Homo sapiens: one gene and its partners. The protein of the gene in region 2 interacts with the protein of the main gene of each other region in a biochemical or structural test. Each region holds a gene or a part of one and is shown on either strand. Other genes may lie near its edges. The genes, in order: DERL1, NGLY1, RAD23A and RAD23B.

The links.
Region 1: the proteins of NGLY1 (region 2) and DERL1 form a complex in vitro, tested with the Homo sapiens proteins (one study listed by BioGRID).
Region 3: the proteins of NGLY1 (region 2) and RAD23A are reported together in a solved structure, tested with the Homo sapiens proteins (one study listed by BioGRID).
Region 4: the proteins of NGLY1 (region 2) and RAD23B are reported together in a solved structure, tested with the Homo sapiens proteins (one study listed by BioGRID).

Annotation. Positions count from the first base shown.
Region 1 is NC_000008.11:123,025,291-123,032,326, forward strand, and holds part of DERL1 (derlin-1), read right to left. Parts: intron 5,467-7,036; exon of another isoform or gene 5,427-5,466; coding exon 5,315-5,426; exon of another isoform or gene 4,940-5,314; intron 483-4,939; exon of another isoform or gene 433-482; intron 1-432. UniProt on the Homo sapiens protein: Functional component of endoplasmic reticulum-associated degradation (ERAD) for misfolded lumenal proteins. Forms homotetramers which encircle a large channel traversing the endoplasmic reticulum (ER) membrane.
Region 2 is NC_000003.12:25,780,438-25,788,382, forward strand, and holds the start of NGLY1 (peptide-N(4)-(N-acetyl-beta-glucosaminyl)asparagine amidase), read right to left. Parts: upstream 3,007-7,945; 5' UTR 2,954-3,006; coding exon 2,823-2,953; intron 2,436-2,822; exon of another isoform or gene 2,301-2,435; intron 1-2,300. UniProt on the Homo sapiens protein: Specifically deglycosylates the denatured form of N-linked glycoproteins in the cytoplasm and assists their proteasome-mediated degradation. Cleaves the beta-aspartyl-glucosamine (GlcNAc) of the glycan and the amide side chain of Asn, converting Asn to Asp.
Region 3 is NC_000019.10:12,948,831-12,954,147, forward strand, and holds the end of RAD23A (UV excision repair protein RAD23 homolog A), read left to right. Parts: intron 1-250; coding exon 251-329; intron 330-444; coding exon 445-578; intron 579-3,858; coding exon 3,859-4,023; intron 4,024-4,105; coding exon 4,106-4,219; 3' UTR 4,220-4,812; downstream 4,813-5,317. UniProt on the Homo sapiens protein: Multiubiquitin chain receptor involved in modulation of proteasomal degradation. Binds to 'Lys-48'-linked polyubiquitin chains in a length-dependent manner and with a lower affinity to 'Lys-63'-linked polyubiquitin chains.
Region 4 is NC_000009.12:107,328,252-107,332,698, reverse strand, and holds the end of RAD23B (UV excision repair protein RAD23 homolog B), read right to left. Parts: intron 3,157-4,447; coding exon 3,043-3,156; 3' UTR 510-3,042; downstream 1-509. UniProt on the Homo sapiens protein: Multiubiquitin chain receptor involved in modulation of proteasomal degradation. Binds to polyubiquitin chains.

The DNA of each region.
Region 1 (7,036 bases), on a different chromosome or scaffold from region 2:
TGCTCTGACTACCACAGGCTAAAACAGACCCAGAGAAAGTACAGTCAATTCCACAGCTTCTGAGCCCTGTATCCCAAAGACCAGTGAGGCCCCCCAAGCTCCCTCCCAGCCTGTCAGCCTTTCCTTCTTGGCTCTCGCCATGACCTGATGGCCGCATTCTGGATTACATGCTTGATCCCTGTCCTCCTCCACTAGACCGTTAAGTTCTGTCAGAGGAGGAACCATGCCTGTTTTGTCTCCATTGTGTCTCCTCCAGCATGGCTATGCTGGGAGGTACTTACCATTATTATTAGAAACACACATACACACACACAACCACCTGTACCACACTGGCCTTAGATACTGAAAAAGAAAGTCTCTGTCTTCCAGAGACGTACATTCTACCAAGGGAAAACAATGTGGGGGAAGGAGGGAATAAAGCGTCAGCCAAACCTTTCCATAGCCTCTGACTCAGTCCTCATACTGCATCTGGAAGGGAGAATGGAAAGACCTACGACCTGCTTCTTACAGATGCAGAGTTAAAGTCACATGACCAAAGTCACAGAGCTTGTTAGAACCAGAGTGACATCAAATTACTAGCACAGTGCTCCTGTCACTGCGCCATATGCCTTATTGGGCAGAATAATCAACAACGGCCTCCCGTGTAAGCATAATTCCTAATGCCTTCAGTTAGAAGACTTTAACAGAAGAAAAAAAAAAAAAGAAACAGAAATGACTGTAAGATCACTCTAGCTTGAAAGTTACTTTCCCTCCCCGTTCCACACCCCCTCACAGTTACATGATACAGCTAGTCAATTTAAAAAAAGAAACCCAACAAGTGTCAGTAAGGCAAAAAGATATAATTAAAAGAAAATAGGTTTCCAGCAAAAGTGTCTTCTACTCTCCTTTATTTCTCCCTTGATACCTCAAAGCACACTTCAGCCACAGTGTTAAGCAGGCCTAATGCTAGAGGATCACAATGATGAATCACAGCTGAAATTCTAACACAATTTCCCGATTTTAATAATAGCTGTGCTTCTTTTGATGTGGCTTTGGCTGTCTGATTCCTAAGGAGTCTTTAGACTGAGTACTTAAAATATTGTAATCATATAAATTACAGCACTATATTATCTGACATGCTTGCAACTGAGAATTTACAAATTAACTGGTTTCAAATTACAGTCTTCCAGTTCAAATCAGAAACCTCAAATAAGCCAACTCTGCTATATAACTAACAATTTAGCCAGGCAGGAAAATGTGCAGGTGGCAAACATTTTGTCAAGATGTTAACTTAAAGCTGTGTGGTTGACAGAAAACTGGGGATCAGTGAACCTGGGTTCCAGTCCTAACTGCGTTAACTCAAAGAGCTCTGCAACTTTTGGGACACGTCACCACCACTCTAGATCACTGTTTTCTTATCTATGAAATAAGAGTGTTAAATAGAATGATCTCAAAAGTTCCTCTCTACACGTTCATAGCAGCTATTATTCACAATGGCCAAAAAATGAAACCAAGTCAAATGTCTATCAACTGATGACTGAATAAACAAAATGAGGTATATCCATACGATGGAATCTTAATGGTAATAAAATGGAATGAAGTACTGATACAGGCTATATGGAAGAATCTTGAAAACATTATGCTACGTAAAAGACATAAGTCACAAAAGGCAACAAGATACTGTATGATTTTAAGAAATGCCCAGAACACGCAAATCTAAAGAGTCAATAAGATCAGTGGTTTTGGTCAGGTACAGTGGCTCACGCCTGTAGTACCAGCACTTTGGGAGGCTGAGGTGGGCGAATCACTTGAGGTCAGGAGTTTGAGACCAGCCTGACCAACATGGTGAAAACCTGTCTACTAAAAATACAAAAATTAGCCAGATGTGGTGGTGCGTGCCTGTAGTCCCAGCTACTCAGGAGGCTGAGGCATGAGAATTGCTTGAACTCGAGATGCAGAGGTTGCAAAGAGCCAAGACAGTGCCACTGCACTCCAGCCTGGGCGACAGAGTGAGACCCTGTCTCAAAAAAAAAAAAAAAAAAAAAAAAAATTTAGTGGTCTCCTAAGGGTGTGGGGGAGGAAGGGATTGAATGAAAAGGGAGAATGGCTGCTAATGGTAGGGTTTCTTTTGGGGGTGGTGAAATATTATAAAAATGGGTGTGATAATGACTGTACAACTCTGTCAATATACTAAAAACCAATGAATTGTGTATACTTTAAATGGGTACGTTGTACCGTACATGAATTACATCTCAATAAAGCTGTTAAAAAATGCCTCTCAGCTCAAGCCTTTCAAAATGCTCTGTAGTTGTTGAGTAGGGAATGAGGAGGCAACTTATAAAAATCAAAGCAAATAAAAGAGACCAGTGACCTAATAATCCCACAAATTTGTCCTAAATTGGTATTCAGAGAGAATAACATTACAATTTGTTGTATTACCTGACCAGGTAATAGGGTTGGGTAAAGGGATTCAAAGCACAAGAAGGCAATTAAAAATAAAAGTGGCCATTGGCCAGGTGCAGTGGCTCACGCCTGTAATCCCAGCACTTTGGGAGGCTGAGGCAGGTGGATTACCTAAGGTCAGGAGTTTGAGACCAGCCTGGCCAACATGGCGAAATGCCATCTCTACCAAAAACACAAAAATTAGCCAGATGTGGTGGCATGCACCTGTAATCCCAGCTACTCGGGAGCCTGAGGCACAAGAATCACTTGAACCCAGGAGGCAGAGGTTGCAGTGAGCTGAGATCACGCTACTGCACTCCCCCGACTGGGTGACAGAGTGAAACTGTATCTCAAAAAAAAAAAAAAAAAAAAGTGGCCATGGAATTATTGCAATTTAGGTTTAATAATAGCATTAGAATTATGTTTTAAGTCCTTATAGTTCAGAGTTAAATTCTGAAATATTTACAAATGAAATGCCTGGCATTTTGCTTCAAATAATCAGGGGTGGAGGACAGCAATAGATATAAATAAAACAAGATTGGCTATGAGATAACTATTAGAGGTGATAACCATTAGATGGTTAAGGAGGGGTTCGTACTGACACACACTATGACAGGAATGAACCTTAAAAACATTGTGCAAAGTGAAAGAAGCCAGTCACCAAAGGACATATGAAATGTCCTGAATAGGTAAATCCATATACACGGAAAGTAGATTAGTGGTTGCCAAAGGCTGGGAGGAGGGAAAGTGGGAGGTAAAGAGTGACTGCTTTGGCTTTTTTAGGGAATGATGAAACTGTTCTGGAATTAGATTGTGGTGATGGCTGCATAACATTGTGAATATACTAAAGACCACTGAATTGTACACCTTAAAATGGTTAAAATGATGAATTTTATGTTATGTGAATTTGGTCTCAGTAAAAAGAAAAAAGGTTCATTGACTTTTCCCTCCACTTTTGCATATGTTTGAAAATTTTCCAGAATAAAATTTTAAATAACTGATCATAAATGATCCACACTTAATCTATTTTACTATTGATATAACGTTTACTATCAATATAAAATAATTACTCCAGCTGGGCACAGTGGCTCACGCCTGTAATCCCAGCACTTTGGGAGGTCAAGGTGGGCAAATCTCTTGAGCCCAGGAGTTCAAGACCAGGCTGGGCAACATGGTGAAACCCCATCTCTACAAAAAATACAAAAGTCAGCCAGGTGTGGCGGTTTAACACCCATCCTTGTAGCTACTAGGGAGGCTAAGGTGGGAAGATCACTTGAACCCCGGCAGTCAAGGCTGCAGGGAGCCATGACTGTGCCACTATACTCCAGTCTGGGTGACAGAGCAAGACCCTGTCTCAAAAAAAAAAAAAATTACTCTAACAAATTAATGCTCAATTAAGTTATACCAGAAAGGCAGACTGCTAAGCACTCAGTATCATTATGGGTCCAACTGGAACAAAGGAGAATAAAAATCACATATTCTGGTAGATTTAAAGATCAAACCCCTAATATGGTGGTGAGAGGCCTAGTTGTCAGTTTCATTTCTGCCAAGTTACTTTACTTCCTTGAATCTCCTATTCATCTTTTGGTAAAACTCAGGAAATAAACTAGGTTCCTCCCAATAGTAATATAATAGTCTATGACCTTACACTTTGTATTAATACAATTTCTTTCTTTTTAAAAAGAACCTAAAAGCAAATGCCAATTTAAGGAAAAATGTTACTTGACATCAAATACCCATCCTACTATTTCCCTGCAGTGATGAGACTGATTCGCAATTCTCAACCATATGAGCACTGACTTACATACACTTAAGGGTAGTTCAGAGTTCTCTATCCTGAGGTAACAGCCAGCAAGTTTATAAAGTCTCTGAAGTCAGTCAGCCTTTTCAAAGTCATTTAAATTTAACAAAATTATATCCATATTGTAACACAGTGTATTGATGTATTGTTTCTTTAGTATAAGTGACTCAGACAGCATATAAGGTATTGTAGGAAATAAATGACAATTCAGTAAGACACTTTTACGAAAAGATTTTTCGAACTTATCCATAATATTACATAGGTTGGCTGGGCACGTTGACTCACACCTGTAATCCCAGCACTTTGGGAGGCTGAGGCAGACAGATCACTTGAGGTCAGGAGTTTGAGACCAGCCTGGCCAACAGGGTAAAACCCCATCTCTACTAAAAATATAAAAATTAGCCGGGTATGGTGGCAGGTGTCTGTAATCTCAGCTACTCAGGAGGCTGAGGCATGAGAATTGCTTGAACCCGAGAGGCAGAGGCTACAGTGAACTGAGATGGCACCACTGCACTCCAGCCTGGGCAACGGAGCAAGATTGTCTCAAAAAATAAATAAATAAATAAAATAAAATATTACATTGGTACTCATACCTGATAAACTACCATATATTATTAAATCTTGGCTATATACTGTATTTTAGAGTTGAGTTTTTCAATTAGAGAATAAATCTAGGCTTTTAATTACATAAATTGATGTTTTTCAACCCCAATCTAGGAGACATATATACTCCAGCCCAATTCTGCACTGAAGGACAAGGACTGCTGCAAAAGAAATGAGTGAGACCCTCAAAATAAATGAAAGGCACACAGCTCAGCCACTAAGGAGATGGACAAGCCATGTCAACCTCTGATCTGCTACTTTTTGCATCTATAAAATGGTAACACTGCTACTTATACCTCAGGATGTTGTGAGGATTAAAAATTGAGTAAGCTAAGTGCCTGGTGCAGTCCTGGCACAGTCACTAAGCATTTACTATCTTTATGCAGTTTCTTTTTGTAATGCTAACTGCCCTCCAAATTCCTCCAAAGTAAACACATGGATTAGTAAATGAGAAAGAAACAATGCTTAAAACAACTATGGGTAACATACCTGTTTCAAGTCGCGTAGAATACTGATATAAGAAATATAAATTGACCAAATAAAGAAATCCAGTTCCTGGACCCACAGGGAAATAAAAGGTGGCAGTGATTGGCCTCCAAATCTGTCCAGATCAAAATAAACACAGCTGTTAGTTTCTGTAAGCCTGGTTATTTCTTTCCCTTCTAACTAAACAAAATTAACAAAGCATCCTCCTCAATGAGAGGTGTGAAAGTGATCCTACCAACACAACTCAAGAAAACAACTGAAGAAAAGTGTTCACACCAAATACAATCACATCACTTTGCAAATCAATGGAATAAAACGACATCATAAAATAAGCAACAAATATTTCTAAACAAGTTGAAACAAAATCAATACTATATGAGTATATGGTTAGTCTTTGCTGAGATCAGGCATACAATTAAGCCTACATCAAAAAATGAATTACAAAGGCTTAATTTCCAACAGTACAGTAATGCCTCTATTTAGGGAAAGAATATTCTGGAATGACAAACCTTGTCCAAAAATGCCACATTCAAAGGCAGAAGTAAAACAACAATTTTTTATTCAAACCAATGCACTAAATAGGCAATAGGGGCACTTTTTCTTTAAAAACATTTCCCTGAAAAAACAAACAAAACATAAGAAGGGTCTAAAGTAACAAGCAGGCCAGGTTCGGTGGCTCATGCCTGTAATCCCAGCACTTTAGGAAGCTGAGGCAGGCAGATCACCTGAGGTCAAAAGTTCAAGACCAGCCAGGCCAACATGGTGAAACCCTGTCTCCAATAAAATTACAAAAATTAGCCAGGTGAGGTGGCGGGGGCCTGTAATCTCAGCTACTCGGGAGGCTGAGGCAGGAGAATCGCTTGAACCCAGGAGGCGGAGGTTGCAGTAAGCCAAGATCGCGCCACTACACTCCAGCCTGGGTGACGAGCGAAACTCCGTCTCAAAAAATTAAATTTAATTTAATTAAAATAAATTAAATAATAAAGTAACAAGTAAGCCTCATTCCCAACCTCCAGTCTCCCAGTTCCCCAACAACAGCTGATCAGTGTCTTGTATTTCCTCTAAGAAATACATGTTACTATTACTCATTCTTCTTTATCCTACTCTATACGGCACTGTTTTATACCTTGGTTCATTCCCTACAAAATATTTTAATTGGCTTCATAGTATTCCTTGTATGTGAATGTCTAAACTTTTGTTTAAACTGTTACAATGCCACAATGAATATTCTTGTATATCCTCTTTATATGTGCATATACAGAATAAGTTCCTGTCAATAAATCTGCTAGAGCAACAGACATAACCATTTATTTTGGTAGATACTGCCAAATGCCTACAAAAATGTTTGCTCAATTTATACTTCCTCCTAAAAAGTAGATGAATCCTGTCTTCTCTCCATACTCTCACCATTTCATGTATTATATATTCACCAATCTGAAAACTAATTTTTATTTGCATTATGAGAAGTCAAGCACCTTTTCACGTTTTAAAAACCTGAGCATTTCCTTTATTCATTTGTTTTTCTGGATTTACATTTTTTTTTTCCCCCCCGAGATAGGATCTTGCTCTGATGCCCAGGCTGGAGTGCAGTGGCATGATCCTAGCTCACTACAACCTCCACCTCCTGGACTCAGGTGATTCTCCCACCTCAGCCTCCCAAGTAGCTGGGACTACCAGCATGCACCACCACACCTGGCTAATTTTTATATTTTTTGTAGATACAGG
Region 2 (7,945 bases):
TCAGTACCACCAGGATGATATATCCTACTGGTTCAAAACTGCTTGAGCTATTTTAATCTATTCTTTTCCTCACAGCTTTCAGATCTCTACATGCTGGGTCTTTCTCTGGGCTAATTTTCTAGTTTCTTCCTGCTTTCACAATTGTTTAAAAATTCTTATAAAATACACATCAGTTCTCATATAGTTTTTGTTTTGTTTTTTAAAAAACAAAGTGTTGCTCTGTCACCCCGGCTAGAGTGCAATGACGCCATCAAAGCTCATTGCTGCTTAGAACTCCTGGGCTCAACAATCCTCTGCCTCAGCCTCTGAAGTAGCTAGGACTACAGGTGAGCCACCACGCCTGGCTATTTTTTTTTTTTATTAAGAGATGGGGTCTCACTGTGTTGCCCCGGCTGCAATCCTTCTACCTGGGGTGTCCTAAAGCCCTGGTACTACAGGTTGGAGCCACTTCGACTGGCCTTTGTTATTTTGATATATGTTGTTACCATTTAACTATTGATATACAATATAGATTTTCCTCTTTAGTTTCTAGTGAGCATTTTTTTTTTCTTTTTTGAGAAAGGTCTCACTTCGCCATCAAAGCTAGAATGCAGTGGCATGATTATGGGCTCAAGCCATCCTCCCACCTCTGCCCTCCAAGTAGCTGGGACTACAGGTGTCTGCCACCACGCTTGGCTAATTTTTTAATTTTTTTGTAGAGACGGGGTTTAGCCATGTTGCCCAGGCTGGTCTCAAACTCCTAAGCTCAAGCAATCCGCCCACCTTGGCCTCCCACAGTGCTGGGGTTACAGGTGTGAGCCACCGTGCCCAGTGAGCAATTTTATTTTTATATCATCTCTGGACCTCACATTAATCTATTTTTCTCAGTAAAAGTATACTGCAAACAGGCTCCAGCAATGACAGTCACATCCAGTTCCTCAAATTCTTTTTCTTATTAAGTATGTTGAGTAAACTGACCGTGGTTTTGTGTATAGACTGATACCAAAGGCCTGACCCTAAAGCCCTCAAAGACTTAGAGGGCTGTAGGGACATTAGACTTCAAACCCATCATATCCTCTTTCCTATCCTTGGAAAAGCAACGCACAAAGACTTTCTTAAACTCTTAATTTCTCAGCATTATTCCAGTGTGTCCACTATCCTTTGCGCTCATTGTCACACCCCTCATCTTTCAGAATCTTGAAGCTGTGAGGCGGAGGTTGCAGTGAGTCAAGATCGCGCCACTGCACTCCAGCCTCATCAACAAGAGCAAACTCCGTCTCAAAAACGAAAATCAGCAACGAGCCATTAGTAAACATTCATAATGAAGATTATGATGCTAAATGTCATTATTTGCATGCAAAGGTTTCCCCCTCATACTAAACCTCAGCATTTTGGGTTTCACTAGATTTAAAGCAGAAGTGAGGCTTCATTACAAGGCCACCTCTCTTTTCTGACTAGTGGGGTTTTAAATAGCCTGGTGGCTTTCCAGGTGGTAAGTCTCAGCTAATGGGCTCTGGAGAACCCAGCCTATCAGTTCATTTATGGAGTCCCTTGGCATCCTTGTACTGTGAAGAGCTGTAAGGCCTCAAAGAGTAAAAAAGGTGAGTTGAGAAGGTGTCACAGAGCACGAAGGTGGTCCCCACACAGGTCACAATTATGTAGCTGTGAACAGGCCACATGTTGCATCTTTCATAGCATCTGCCACAAAATAAGGGCTCAATATATTTTCCCTTCAATTTACTTTAAAAATCATTACCATTGCCTAAATGAAATATTACTGACATGGATTTTAAAAACTGCACATGTAACTAATGTCTAAAATTGGGTCACGTGAAACCTATAACCTTGAAACTGAGAATTTCCTTTTAGACTTCATGACAATATACCAAACACTTAATGCACCAGGGGCTGAGGGGAACAGAGAACCTAATTAATCACGGTGACCTGATAAATGAGGTAACACCCCTAAAGCAAGTGGCTCTCCTTTAACCTCAGTTCCATTTCCCTACCCCCCCACACCATGTCCCTTCAGATCATTTGATCTGAAGAGTTGAGGTGGGTACTTATTCAAAATGAATAATCAAACTTGCCTCCCAATTCCCAAAATCTGCAAGGTCCCTTAGACCTCTAGAAGTGCAATTTTGCTGACAGGAGAATGAAGGAAATTACTCTCATCCAAGGCGATTACCTCCACGAATTCTTAAAGGGTTATGTTACATAGTAGAATCCAGGTATTAATATAAAAACTGTAACTTCAAAATACTATAATGTTTCAATCAACAAAAGTGGGCAGAAAAAAAATTAAAAATTTTAAAACCCACCACTTCAGAAGCATTATGCTTTAGTACTCGGATAGTCTCAACATGGGAAGAAAACATCACTTTGTCAGTGAGTAACTTCTGATAAGTATGTGGAAATGTAAGCCACTCCGCTCGAAAAATGCACGCAGGGGGAATGACACGCGCGGTGCGGTTACCGTTGTGTCCCGATATCTGAGGCCGTTAAACGACGAGAAGAGCGGCAGTGTCTGAAGCACGCCTTCCTACCTCTCCTCCGCCCGGCCCCGCTTCCGGGACTCCAGTTCACCCGCAGCACCCTGACTGCAGGTGCCAAGTCACAACTGCAAAGAAACTTCCTTTTCTCGAGCGGGGGTGGGACTTGGCCGGGTCCCGAGGCCCCTGGCCGGCGGGCTCGGACGTTAGGAGCAGAACCAGCTCCAGGTCCCGGTCTGTCCGGGCGTCGCTGCCCTCTGAAGCTCAGGCCGGACGCCCCAGTCCCTGGCCGAACAAGGTGCCGCGGCCCACCCACCCCGGTACCCGCCGTCCGACCCCGTTGCCCTGCACCTGAGGATGTTGTCAGCATAGGTGAGCAGCAGCTTGGAGGCCTCCAAAAAGGTCTCCGGGGTGTTCTGGCAGAGCTCAGCCACGGCCGGGGACGCCGAGCCTGAGGAGCTGCCCAATGCCGCCGCCGCCATGCTTGAGCGCCAGCGGGCGCCGCCGCCGCCCCTCGCTCTCCGCGTCCCACACTGAGCAGGCGCCTCAGCGCGCAGCAGCTACCGCAGCCACCGGCAGGGGCGGGGTCCTCGGCCGGCAGGGGCGGGGTCCTCGGCCGGCAGGGGCGGGGTCCTCGGCCGGCAGGGGCGGGGTCCTCGGCCGGCAGGGGCGGGGTCTTCGGCCGGCAGGGGCGGGGTCGGGGGCCTGGGGCGGGGTCGGGGACCGGGGCCAGGAGCGGGGGAGCTCGGCTGGGAGCTACGGCTGCCCCTTCGCGGGGGGCAAGGGGCTGTTCGGAAGAAGGTGGGGGGCCTCGGCCGGCAGGGGCGAGGTGCTTCGACCCAGAGTTGGGGCCTGGTCGTACAGGTTGGGAAGGGGTTCCGCAGGGAGAGGCGGGGCCTGGGCTCCGGGGCTGAGGGGTGTGGGCCTGGAGGAGGGGGATGTCGAGTCCTTTAGGACGGAGGAGCTCGGCTGGAGGGGAGGCCGGCTTTGGTCTAGAGGTATCGGGCGAATGGTGCTGGCACGTGCCTCTCAGAAACCCGGATCCCTTTGCGCTCCGGGGCCAGCCTAATTGATCCAGCTATTAAGGTGGAGAAACCGCATGTACCTCCCTCCTTTCCCCACAAATAAAACCACCTTAGAGCCTTCTCTTCGCAGATTGTCAGGACGTTCTACATAGATGTGGATGAAAGACTACAGAAGGAAGGAGCAACAAACGTCAAAAACAAAACCATGGCTATAAACTCTGCTGGGTTTGTTATATGGATTCTTTTCAGAATTTGGCTAATGACTGAAAATCTAAGTTCCAGCTCAACTAGTATATGATTCCTCTGTAAGGAAGTGTATTTTTAAACCATAGGTTGCGACATAATAATGGGTTGTGGATTCGGTTTACCGCGTGGTGACCAGCGTAAAACACATGCATAATAATTACGCAATATTATAGAATGTCGGGGGCGGGAAGGGAATAAAAATTTGCATCCCACACAGTAAGGGTAAGTAATATTTTGTGACTTGTTTTTTAGGTAGATCATGTGATCAAGGTCTTTTATTCCTCTTAGAAGATGCATCCCTTACTACTTTAATCCAGTCTCTTCCCCACCATGTTCTTGAAAGTGTACTTTACCAGTGGCTTCCTTCTTTGCAGAAATTCCTTTTCAACCTCACGAAGTATTTTTCTTGACTTTATTTCTTAAGATAAGTGATTTGCCTGAATAACCTCTTTTAAATTTCTTGATGTTTCATCTGTTTACTTTTAAGAATTGAAATTTTCTTCCAGAATCTCCGAACAAGACCCTAAGCTATGACATCCAGTTCAATGACTATTCGTCTCCCAAATATACGTACGCTTTTAATAAATATGTAAATCTTTGGACCACCTTCCAAGTATGGTGTGTTCAACAGATAGTAGTATGTTACTACCGTCTGTAACTAAAATTTTCAGGGGCTTAACACAAGAGTAATTTCTTTCTGGCTCATATAACACTTTAATAATGCAGGTGTCATAATGTCAGTGGACCCAGTCTCCTTCCATACCTTAGAACAGGGGTCAAGAAACATTTTCTGTAAAGGGCCACATAGTGTTTTAGGCTTTGTGAGCCATAAGGTCTGTCTCAACTATTTAACTCTGCCTCTGCAGCTGTTGCTCCACAGACAATACTTGAAAATAAATGGGCATGGTTATGTTCTAGTGAAATTTTATTTACAAATCCAGGCAGCCTGCTTGGACAAAAAAAAAAAAAAAAAAAAAAAAGTCACACCTACTTTTAACCACATGAGCCCAGAAATGACACACAGCATTTTCTCTACCATATCATTACTAAGAATGAGGCCTCATCAAGATAAAAGGGGGTATTTCAGTAAGGCCAGATTTACAAAAAATAAAAAAAAAATTTAAAAACACATAAAAAGATAAAAGGGGAGAGTCTGGGAAATGTAGTCTCGTCCAACTACACAATGGATTGGGGGCTTGGGTCTGGAGATATAGCTATCACAAACTTTATTCCTCTTAATTTGGGTTTCTTTTTCCATTGATACATTTATTTATCCTTTACTAATTATATGAGAATAGTATATATTATACAGTACTTGTAACTTTTAAAAATGCAACAGAACTTTTTTTTTTTTTTCAAATAAAATTTTAGGGGCTGGACATGGTGGCTCACGCCTGTAATCCCAATACTTTGGGAGGCCGAGGTAGGTGGATCGCTTGAGCCCAGGAGTTCAAGACCAGCCTGGGCAACATGGCAAGACCCCATCTCTACAAAAAAAAAACAAAAACAAAAACATAGGAAGATTGTCTATATACAAAACACCAAAGTGGAAATGCTCTGGTATTGAAGCAGAGGTGTCAAGTGAAGGGCAGAAAGCTGTCAGCTAAGGCTTTCCCCTGACAGATAGAATGGTCATAGGGTACTTTTGTGGGGGAACAAAATGACTTTTGTTTTTCTCTTCATAATAGTTTGTTTCCTCAACTAAAACGCTATCTCACTGTAAGTTATCATTAGTTTTGTCTTCCCTATTTGATTAAAAGTCTCTTGTGCCATCTGTCTCAGACTGCTTTGCACACAGCAGGTACTGAATAGAGTTGTTGGTTAATCACTCAATGTAGTCACACAATAGTGAATCACTATACAAATTCCTGAAAGACTTCAACTCCTCCCCTTGCTAATGGTTTTTATGGAGGTTAACTTTTTAATATCACCAAACCAATCGTGGGGAAAATTTACAGAGTTCTTTCTTTTTTGTTTTATTAAAGAATAGTGTTAGCCAGGCGTGTTAGTGCACACCTGGAGTCCCAGCTACTTGGGAGGCTGAGAGGCAGGAGAATCGCTTGAACCCAGGAGGCAGAGGTTGCAGTGAGCTGAGGTTGCCCTACTGCACTCCAGCCTGGGTGACAGAGCGGGACTCTACCTCAAAAAAAAAAAAGAATAGCGCCATGATATGTCAACTCTAAAAATGATGTTTTTAATAAAGGTGAAATCCTGGGGAAAAAAAAAATCTTTATTTTGGAACAAAAATAAATAAATAAAAGAACAAGAATTTCAATGCTGATTTAGTACCCATTCTTTGGTTGTTTGAAACAACGATGGGTATAAAAGTTAGGGTAGCTTATTCAGCTTTTCTAAAGGAAATGGAAGAATTAGAATATCTCCAACTTGACTGAAGTGGGGGAAGCAGCCAGGAAAATGAGAGACCAAGTCCCTTTATATAATGGATTCCCTTAATAGCTTTATAAATGGCAATATTCAAAAGAGATTACAGTTACTCAAGAACTTTAACAGAAGTGTTGCTAAAGAGTTATTTGGAAGGACTTAAATTTCAGATGATTTTTTTAAAATGGTGATTTCCATGATTTTATGGACTGTACATTGTTATCACAATATTAATGCTATGGCATTGGTTTTCGCAAAAGTCATTTGGTGAGAAATGCACAAAAAGTGCATGTGTACTATCAAATGTAAGGATAAATGTTGATTTATTCATTCCATAATTCATTCATTCATCATGTATTTATGAAGTGACTACTAGTTGCTCAGCACTGTGAAGGAGACAAGTATGGTCCCTACTTTCATAGAAGTCATAAGTTTAGAGCAGTGGTTGGACAAGCAACAGCAGCATCAGCAGGAAACTTGTCAGAAAAACAAATTCTGAAGCTCCACATTTAAAGGTGGGACCCAGCAATCTGTGTGGTAACAAGCCCTTCAGGTGATTTTGATTAACAGTAAACTTTGAGAACTACTAGTTTAGAGGGAGGAAAATTTCACTGTGGGCTGCAGTTTCAGTGAGGGGGGACAACTTGAACAGAAGCCTTAAATTGAGAGGTTGAGAAGGTGAGAAAGGAGAGGACTTGCTACCTGTGAGAGACTCCCCACCCTCCTTAAATCATGTACAATATCCTAGTAACGTTTCCTTCTCAACATCTCCTGGATCTCTCCTTGCCATTGCCTTCAGAGCCTCGTGTTTCATCCATTCTTAACTTTCTTCCCTGTGTCCATTTCCACATCCTTCCAACCCACCCTGCTCATTTGTGCAATAGTGATCTTTCTAAAGCACCCATCTGATCATGTTGTTCTCCTGGTAAAAAGTTTTCTATGGCTCCCTCTATCCACATTCTAAAGTCAAATGGTGTCAGGAACCAGGCTGGTAAGTTAAATATTTTAAGTGGCTTTGTTCAAGACAAAGAGGAGTAAGAGAGACTCCAGTGAAGGGAATGAGAGAGTTTACCATGTCCTTTCTAGAGGAGTTTAGAATCAATAAAAGAATGTTGCACTCCAAATTATACCATGAAGGCTAGCATATGGTCTCTGAACTACGGGATTAAATCCAAAGTCCTCAGTATGATACCCCAGGCTTTTGTGATCTGGGCCCTGCCTTACTCTCATGCGTTTACTGTTGCTTTGTCCCACACTTCAAATTTGACATGGGCCACATATTTAGCTGTTTGTGGAAGATACCATGACACTTCATTTCTCCAGGCCTTTGTTCTCCTCCTGCCAGGATGCCCTTTCCCACCCAATTTACTAGACAAACATTCATTTCCAAGATGCAGTTCAAGGATCATTTCTCTGAAGCCTTTTCTGACTTTACGAGGTAGCACAGACCTCATTGTCCCTTTTGTGTTATAATAATTCCACTATAGCACCTGTTTCAACAGTTTGCACTTACTTGTTTCTATGGGTGTCTCCCTTTACTAGACCATAAACTTCTTGAAAGCAAGAGCCATACCTCTACTCATTTTTGCATTCAAACTTCAAGCATTGATAGGAAGAAAATGAGTGGTTGTTGAAAATAGCAAAAGCACAGAGATGAGAAAAGTTAGGGTCAATCAAGACATGTATAGTGAGAAAATCAGTTTGCTGGGTGGCAAGCTCATTTAATAGAGAATGGGAGCCATAATTGGAAAGATAGTTTTGAATCAGATTACAAAGAATTTAAGGCAAACCTAGGAAGTCTTAATAGGAGGGTAGGATAAG
Region 3 (5,317 bases), on a different chromosome or scaffold from region 2:
CCTCCCGGGGAGGCCTTGAGGGAGTACCCGGGCGTCACTGCCCTGATGGGCGGTTGGGAAGGCAAAACCTGCCCTGAAAAGCCTTTGGGTAGTGATTCTAGCCACTAAAGGCTTCCCACAGGAGGCTGGATGTGAGTGATGGGTGGGCCTCTGGAGGGCAGGGCCGAGGCCTCATCTGTGTCCTGCCAGGGCATGGAGGAGGGTGGCAGCAGGAGGTCTGTGCATTAGAACTAAACAGGACCCCTGACAGGGAATTCCTGGGAGCCCCGAGCCGGAACACGGTTCTGTCCAGGAGAGCCAGGTATCGGAGCAGCCGGCCACGGAAGCAGGTGGGTGTGCACATGCCGCATCTGCCCTCCAGGTACCTGACTCACATTACACTCCACCCCGCAGTGCTCCTAGGAGCCCGGCGTGGTGTCTGACTGCACCCCTTCCTACTACCAGCAGGAGAGAACCCCCTGGAGTTCCTGCGGGACCAGCCCCAGTTCCAGAACATGCGGCAGGTGATTCAGCAGAACCCTGCGCTGCTGCCCGCCCTGCTCCAGCAGCTGGGCCAGGAGAACCCTCAGCTTTTACAGGTGTGGTCCCAAGGGCAGAGGGAGCTAGGGCAGCCACCATTTCCCTTCCCTGTGGGCACCAGAGTCCATAACACGTAGGAATCGTTCTAGGTCCGGAAAGCAGGACTAAGCACATGCTTCCCCCACGCCCCTGTGCTTCCTGTGACCTGGTGACCCCCCTGGTTTCTCAGTCTTCCCAACCACCTTGTAAGGTGTGGGTGCTGTCAACATCACCTCCCACAGAAGAAGACACCGGAAACTTAGAGCAGCCTGTCATTCCCAGGGTCACGCAGCTGGTAGTGTGTGTGTCTGCCTCCTGCCTCGGGGTGGGGTCCTGGGCTGGGGCTCTGGCTTCACATACAGATGGTGCTGCGTAAATGTCTGTAAGGTGGCATGACGTCACCCAGGACAGCTGTGCCCCAGTTGGCTCTGGGACAACTCTGCTCAGTGAGGCTCCATCTTGCCCTTGAAGGTTCACAGGAAGAGTGGGGGAGTGGCCCCCTGGGTGCAAGTAGGTTCCTCTGGGTTCTCGGTGAAGTGCCTACCGGTCTTGGCTCAGGACCCTGCTGTCTGACCCTTCTCCTCTCACTTCTCAGTCCCTTGCCAGCTCCTCCTGGTCGGTCGTGTTCTTCATCTGCACTCAGCCCTCCCTCATAGTGTCCTGGGGCCTTCAGTCTGTATGGGAACCCCCAAATCTATGTAGCCAGCCCAGGCCTCTCTGAATGCCACACTCCATGGCTGGCTTAATTAACTCTCCATCAAAGTGCTCCCTAGACTAGACGTCTAAGACTTAGAACAGACCTCCCCAGTCCTCCCCGATCTCTGCAAGGATTAGCTTGGGGTTGCTTCAGCCCCAGGCCCTGGGGATCTGCTGGGGTCTACCCCTTGTCCTGTCTGCTCTTCCCACTCAGCCCCTCCCTGCACTCCAGCTCTCTGGTAGCCTCTTCCTGGGCCTCTGCCACTGCATAGTCCCACAGTCCACTTTTCAACCATGAGGCAGATGACTAAAAAGCACTTTCTTTTCTTTTTTTTTTTGAGAGGAAATCTCGCTCTGTCGCCCAGGCTGGAGTGCAATGGCGCAATCCCGGCTCACTGCAACCTCCGCCTCCCGGGTTCAAGCGATTCTTTTGCCCCCGCCCGAGTAGCTGGGACTACAGGCGCCCGCCACCACGCCTGACTAATTTTTTGTATTTTTAGTAGAGATGGGATTTCACCCTGTTAGCCAGGATGGTCTCAATCTCCTGACCTAATGATCTGCCCGCCTTGGCCTCCCAAAGTGCTGCAATTACAGGCATGAGCCATCACACCTGGCTGACTGAAAAGCACTTTCTTCTTTAATGTGAAAATGATCAGATGCATACAATGGTAGAGTTATATCAGAGCTTCCAGATACCCAGGTAGGGCACAGTGGCTCATGCCTGTAATCCCAGCACTTTGGGAGGCTAAGGCAGGCAGACCACTTGGTCAGGAGTTTTAGACCAGCCTGGCCAACATGGCAAAAACTCGTCTCTACTATAAATACAAAAAGTAGCTGAGCATGGCGGCAGGCCACTGTAGTCCCAGCTACTCAGGAGGTGGAGGCAGGAGAATCGCTTGAACCCAGGAGGCAGAAATTACAGTGAACCGAGATTGCCCCACTGCACTCCAGCCTGGGTGACAGAGTGAGAGTGTCTCAAAAAGAACAGAAACAAAAATGAACAAATGAACTTCCAGATACCTAAATCCAACACCCAGATGAGTTCACTTTTTTTGGTTTGGGGGCTGGTAGGTGGGAATAGAGACAGGGTCTATGTTGCCCAGGCTGGTTTTGAACTCTTGGGCCCAAGCAGTCCCTCCTGCCTTGCCTCCCAAATTGTTGAGGTTACAGGCGTGAGCCACCACACCCGGCCAAGTTCACCTTTCTAAAAGATCCACAGACCACGTCTTTTCCCATGTAACTGTCACCACCGTGGCTTCCCCCTGCTCTAGAAAATGGGTCTGACTTGGGCCTTCCTCTCTGGTGTCATTGTCTGCCTCCTCCCCCTTCCCTTGTTCGCTGTTTTTTGTTTTTTTTGTTGTTGTTGTTTGTTTGTTTTTGAGATGGAGTTTCGCTCTTGTTGCCCAGGCTGGAGTGCAGTGGCGTGATCTCAGCTCACCGTAACCTCCGCCTCCTGGGTTCAAGAGATTCTCCTGCCTCAGCCCCCAGAGTAGCTGGGATTACAGGCATGTGCCACCACGCCCTGCTAATTTTATATTTTTAGTAGAGATGGGATTTCTCCATGTTGGTCAGGCTGCTCTCAAACTCCTGACCTCAAGTGATCTGCCTGCCTCAGCCTCCCAAAGTACTGGGATTGCAGGCATGAGGCACCGTGCCCAGCCCCATTCACTCTGTTCCTGCTTCTGTTTCTGAGACTTCCCAGATGCATCCACCCTGGGCCTTTGCACTTGCTGTTTGCTTTACCTGGAGGAAACCCTCTGCATCCGCCATACTGCAGGCCTCTCCACCAGCCCTCATCTGCAGTTCCTTCCTAGCCAGACACTTGCAGTTGTCTGGTTCATTTATTGGCTCACTCACTTATTTTTTGAGAGTCTCTTGCCCAGGCTGGAGTGCAGTGGCACAGTCTCGGCTCCCTGCAACCTCTGCCTCCTGTGTTCAAGTGATTCTCCTACCTTAGCCTTCTTGAGTAGATGGGATTACAGGCACGTGCCATCACACCCAGCTAATTTTTGTATTTTAGTAGAGACGGAGTTTCACCATATTGGCCAGGCTGGTCTCGAACTCCAGGCTGGTCTAGAATCACCTGAAGTGATTATAGGTGTGAACCACTGCAGCCAGCCTATTTATGTATTTATTTATTCAAGACAGGGTCTTGCTCTGTTGCCCAGGCTGGAGTTCAGTGGCTTACTGCAGCCTCCGCCTCCTGGGTTCAGTCTTATGCCTCAGCCTGCCAAGTAGCTGGGATTACAGGCGTCTGCCACCACACCTGGCTACTTTTTGTATTCTTAGTAGAGATGGGGGTTCACCATGTTGGCCAGGCTGGACTCGAACTCCTGACCTCAAGTGATCCACCTGCCTCTGCCTCCCAAAGTGCTGGGATTACAGGTGTGAGCCACCGTGCCCGGCTTATTTCTTGGCTCACTTAAAAGCACATCATCAGCTCTTCCAGGGTAGGGCTTGTGTCGACTGCTATGTTGTGTTTGGCCAGAACAGGCTCCTCTGGATATTTGCCTGACTGAATGAAAAAGCAAGGGCTGTGATGACCTGGGGAGAGGAGGGGACCAGGGCTGTGAATTACCTTCCCTTCCCCACCCTCTCCTGCAGCAAATCAGCCGGCACCAGGAGCAGTTCATCCAGATGCTGAACGAGCCCCCTGGGGAGCTGGCGGACATCTCAGATGTGGAGGGGGAGGTGGGCGCCATAGGAGAGGAGGCCCCGCAGATGAACTACATCCAGGTGACGCCGCAGGAGAAAGAAGCTATAGAGAGGGTAAGAGGCCTGGCTGAGGGGTGACTGCAGGTGGGCAGGACCCCTACCCTCTCCTGCTCACACTTAACCTATCTTCCCACAGTTGAAGGCCCTGGGCTTCCCAGAGAGCCTGGTCATCCAGGCCTATTTCGCGTGTGAAAAAAATGAGAACTTGGCTGCCAACTTCCTCCTGAGTCAGAACTTTGATGACGAGTGATGCCAGGAAGCCAGGCCACCGAAGCCCCCACCCTACCCTTATTCCATGAAAGTTTTATAAAAGAAAAAATATATATATATTCATGTTTATTTAAGAAATGGAAAAAAAAATCAAAAATCTTAAAAAAACAAGCAAACAGTCCAGCTTCCTGTCCTCCTAAAGTGGCCCCTGTTCCCATCTCCCGGGCCAGACAGCTGTCCCCCCGTCCTCCTCCCCAGCCCAGCCTGCTCAGAGAAGCTGGCAGGACTGGGAGGCGACAGATGGGCCCCTCTTGGCCTCTGTCCCAGCTCTCTGCAGCCAGACGGAAAGGCGGCTGCTTGCCTCTCCATCCTCCGAAAAACCCCTGAGGACCCCCCCCCATCCTCTTCTAGGATGAGGGGAAGCTGGAGCCCCAACTTTGATCCTCCATTGGAGTGGCCCAAATCTTTCCATCTAGGGCAAGTCCTGAAAGGCCCAAGGCCCCCTCCCCAGTCTGGCCTTGGCCTCCAGCCTGGAGAAGGGCTAACATCAGCTCATTGTCAAGGCCACCCCCACCCCAGAACAGAACCGTGTCTCTGATAAAGGTTTTGAAGTGAATAAAGTTTTAAAAACTAGCCCTATGGTCTGTGCCTGCTGGGGCTCCCCGCGCCCACCTGTCTGGGTCTTGGGGGGCTGGCTGGGCACAGGCAGGCATGGTGACGGGTGCCTGGAAGGGGGAGAGGAGTCTGTGAGTCCCTGCAGATTGAGGCTTCCGGTGTCTCCTCCCCCAGTGTGTCATTTCCAGGCAGTGGACCCCAGCCCAACGTTACAAGGACTGCTTCTCCCCGGCCCCCACCATCATCACCACAGTCTGTTTTGGCTATACTTCCCCCCCCACCAGCCTTGTAATTGGCTAATTACTGGAGATGAATGTTGGTAAACAGAAGCCTTCTTCTCTTCTGCCATCTGCTTCTCCATTATTTGCCCATTGTACACCCCCCTTTTCCTCCCACTGAAGCCCCAGTTAGTCAGCAGGGCCTAGAGTCCCTGTCCCCTTTTGAGTACAGCCAAGTGGGGGATTCCCCAGCTCTTAAGTATTGGGGGAGGAACCAGGGGACCCAGAGAGGCACACCTTGAGAG
Region 4 (4,447 bases), on a different chromosome or scaffold from region 2:
ACCATTTAAAAATGTAAAGATCACTCTTAGTTCATGGACCACATAACAGGTATATGCCAGATTTGGCTCATGAAGCTGTAGTTTGCCAGCCCTTGGCTTAGGGGGAAAAAATGGGGAAAATGGATGGGGGAGGCCAACTGAACTTCATGGCTGGAGAATCCACCAGAACTGACTGGGTCAGGAACACTCATTCCCTCCAATTGCTTACTTTCGGTAGAACATTTTGCAGCAGGCTTTGGCTGGCTGCTTCAGACAAGTATGGAACAATGGAAATTTTATGCATTCCCTAGAAGACCTCACTAACCTTAACATCCCAGCAAGTATCCCATCTCTGTGTTGAGAAAAGAACCAGGAGACCCAATAAAGTCAATCTAGTGCCTGGGCCTCCTATATGATACACTCACCAATTACTGAAGTAAAAAGAAGTATCAGTGACAGAAGCATTGTCAACTTTCAATTCTGATTCTACGTGACAGAATCATTTAAAAAATGAGAAGTGCAATGTTGGATGTATTGAAAATATTTTATAATCAATTCTCTAGAATCCTAGCCATCCAGTACAGGAAAAAATTATATTGGAACACTTCCGTATTTTTAAACAATGAAAAAAAATTTGACTAGAGGATGGCATAAGAAATTTACAAATACAAACTTAGGCTTCCTCACATTTCCCACAGAGCAACTAAACGAGAAAAAGATTTCAAGAAATGACAGTATACCTCGAATGCAAAATTCCAAAGTCAAATAGCTACTTACATTAAGAGATTTACCAAAACAGTTTGTAAATTAAACATTAACAGCAAAAGGCACAAAAAGCCTATTTCTTTTATGGTGTCTCGGCTGATTCTTTAAGAAGCAGATAAACAAGGTACTGTATGGAACGATCAAAACTTGGCCTGAGCTGTCTTCTGATAATTAATCCTAGTATATCCAGATTTGTTGTCCAAGGACACAAGCTCCATGCCACCTTCTGCTGTCACTTTCCAAGAAGAGGCTGTTTTTTTTTTTTGTTTCCAGTTTTCACTATGATCTGAGTAGACAGAGAATGTCATAAAATAAATGAGAGTATTCCATTATCCGATCAGAAATGCCACCTCTTTTCCCAACTCATTGCTCTGACTTGAAAGATGAACGTATATATGAATTCTCATTTTATTCTCCTGAGAAATTATGCATGATCCATTATAAAACATACAGGTAATACAAAGTCCAAAAGCCTGTCATGTTTATGGCAGTGGTGTGATCTCAGCTCACGGCAACCTTCACTTCCCGGGTTCAAGCAATTCTCATGCCTCAGCCTCCCAAGTAGCTGGGACCACAGGCGTGCGCCACCATGCCTGGCTATTTTTTGTATTTTTAGTATAGACGGGGTTTCGCCATGACGGTCAGGCTGGTCTCAATCTCCTGGCCTCAAGTGATCTGCCCACCTCGGCCTCCCAAAGTGCTGGGATTATAGGCATGAGCCACCATACCCAGCCAGTTTCATTTATTTTCATAATAGGTTATGAGTACGTGATGTAAATGCTTAAAAGTCATCATCACCATACTGTGCTAAAGATATTGAGAAATTATGCAGAGAAATCTGTGCAAATTCATCTTCTTAGTATCAGATGGTTAAAAAAAAGGAAACAAAAAACAAAAGCAATCCAAATTATTTCTTTAAATACTCTTATTTATACTCAGGAAAACAGATTTGAAAAACTGAACAAGTAGACATCTGCCCCGTTTATGATTAAATAACAATGCCAATGAAGGAGATTCCACAGAAAAAACTGAGATGAAAAAATCCAAATAAAAGCCAACACTGCTATTAAGATTTTTCTTTTAATATGCCATGAGATATCTTGATTGTATATTTTCCAAAGTACTTTCCAGCCACATCTCCCAACCCATCCAAAAGACTTTGCCAGTCTTTCCAATGCAATAAAAGATGCTGGATTATAGTTTTGTCTACCATTTCTTTTTGAAAGCAATATTATACTAATGACTTTAATGGTAATACACTCTTATCTAATAAAGAAACACATTTACAAATATCAGAAACCCAGTTTTGAAACATTTGCATTAATTTTGAACTGAATCAGCATTTTGTGGGTTTTTTAAAAGGCAGCAGTTTGACTCACGACTTGCTGATAAACACGTTTCTGCTGAGGGAAGGGGAAAAGACAGGGAGAGTGAATGCTGCATTTCTCCATTGGCCCCAAAAGTGCTAATTTCACAAAGGGATACATCAAAAGCAAACATGCAATGGTTGTTTTAAAACTTTTACTGCAATATAACAATGAAGTAAACAGTAATTAGACACCTACCAATTTTTTCCCCAAAACAAAAAAAAAATGTAAACAGGAAAATAACTCTGCCTATACTTGTACAGCTTCTCAAATCATGTTAGAAGGGTCTCACATTCAATGATCAAGAAATTTTAAAATAGCAGTAATTATTTTCATTTTAAGAAAAGGTTCCCTTTCTCCCCTCCCACCCCAAGTATTTAACATGAAAGAATGGGCTTCCTTACATATTAATTTTATACTTATTTTTGAAGCAGCAACAATTAACCATCAATTTGGCATTTCTGTTTACAGTCGCTACAAAAATTTTTTAAATTTCACAAAGCCATTATCCAGTGTTGCCATGAAACAGAGACTGTAAATTCTAGGTAGCTAAGATTCTTTCTGAAACCAATGTTAAGTCAAAGAAATATAAAGCAGGGCATTACACTAAGTTTCTGGATCTAGTACACTAAAAAGAGTGAAACCTAGGAAAAGTTACCTACTGTTTTACAGAAGAAATAAAGACCTGCAAAAGCTGATTTTTGGTTGTATATATTTTACACACTGTGTGGAGTTGCGGCATCTGCTAATTGAAGCAGACATGCACTGTATTTATCCCTGCCCTGTATCCTAGATCCCTCCCTCCCCACCCCCAACAATCTACTACCTTATACCAAGTATTGTGGATATGAGCCCAAGTCATCCCAGACAATCCAGTGAACAAGTTAGTGTAATGCACTGGTGTGAAGTGTGAGATATAAAAAAGTCCCTTTCAATCTTCATCAAAGTTCTGCTGTAGAAGAAAATTGGCAGCCAAATTCTCATTCTTCTCACAAGCAAAATACGCTTGTATCACAAGTCCTTCAGGAAATCCTAATGCCTTTAACTGGAAGAAAAAGGAAAAAAATATAAATCCAACACACCAATTATGGCACATTTAATTTTATTTACATATTATAGATTCCAGCATAGCACTAAAGATAAATCATTACTCAAAAACATACTGCAACCCAAAAAAGCTCTTGAGAATTTTACATGAATTCATCTCTATCAATATGGATTTACTGCCCAACCCAAGGGATTAGATGGAATCTAGACCCTTTCCTTTACTAATCACCTAAAAAAGTCTTTGTTTCTAGTTAAAGCTTAATAGATACTATGCAAATACTCTTTGGCCTAATTAAAAATTAGCTGCTAACTGCTATGGTTTAAAAATAAATGACTCTACAGAAATATGTAAATCAAATGGCTTTTAGTATATTAAGAGTGAAGATAAGGATGAGAGTACCTGCAGTATAGTTTAACCACCTCACCTATTTCTAAATTAAAAGCAAATTATGTTTTATTTATTAATGTCAACTCATGTCTTTCATTTGGATCAAACATCACTCTCAATCTCCTTGCTTTATTCAACACTCCATACTAGAAAAACAGGTGACCAATTATTAGTAATACATGGTACATTTTGAAGATAATGTTCTATTTTTATCTGCTTAACAGTTACAGCATTTTAAATGGTAATACCAGCTACTTAATTTCATTTTCCTAGTCTATTATATTAAAAATCACTTGTGACAATACTCACTCCTTTTAAAAGCCTTTAAAAACTCAGCCAAATGTCACCCTCCTCAATTGTCTCAATCACCTTGAGTTAGATCACAGGTCCCAAACCCCAAGACCGTGAACTGGCACCAGCCATTGGCCTGTTAGGAACTGGGCTGCCCAGGAGCAGGTGAGCAGTGGGTGAGCAAGGAACTGGGCCGCACGGGAGGAGGTGAGCAGTGGGCGAACAAGTGAAGCTTCATCTGTATTTACAGCCACTCCCCATCACTCGAATTACCACCTGAGCTCCGTCTCCTGTTGTATCAGTGGCGGCATTAGATTCTCATATGAGCATGAACCCTACTGTGAACTGTGCATGAGAGGGATCTAGGGTCTGTGCTCCGTATGATAGCCTAACAAATGCCTGATGATGTGAGATGAAACAGTTTCATCCCAAAACCACCGCCCCACCCCACTTCCTAACCTAACTAACGCCTGATGATCGGAGGTGGAACAGTTTCATCCCAAAATCACTGCGCCCACCCCACCTATGTTGGTAGAAAAAAAGGTCTTCTACGTAACTGGTCCCTGGTGCCAAAAAGGTTAAAGACTGCTGTGTCAGATTATATTTGGAA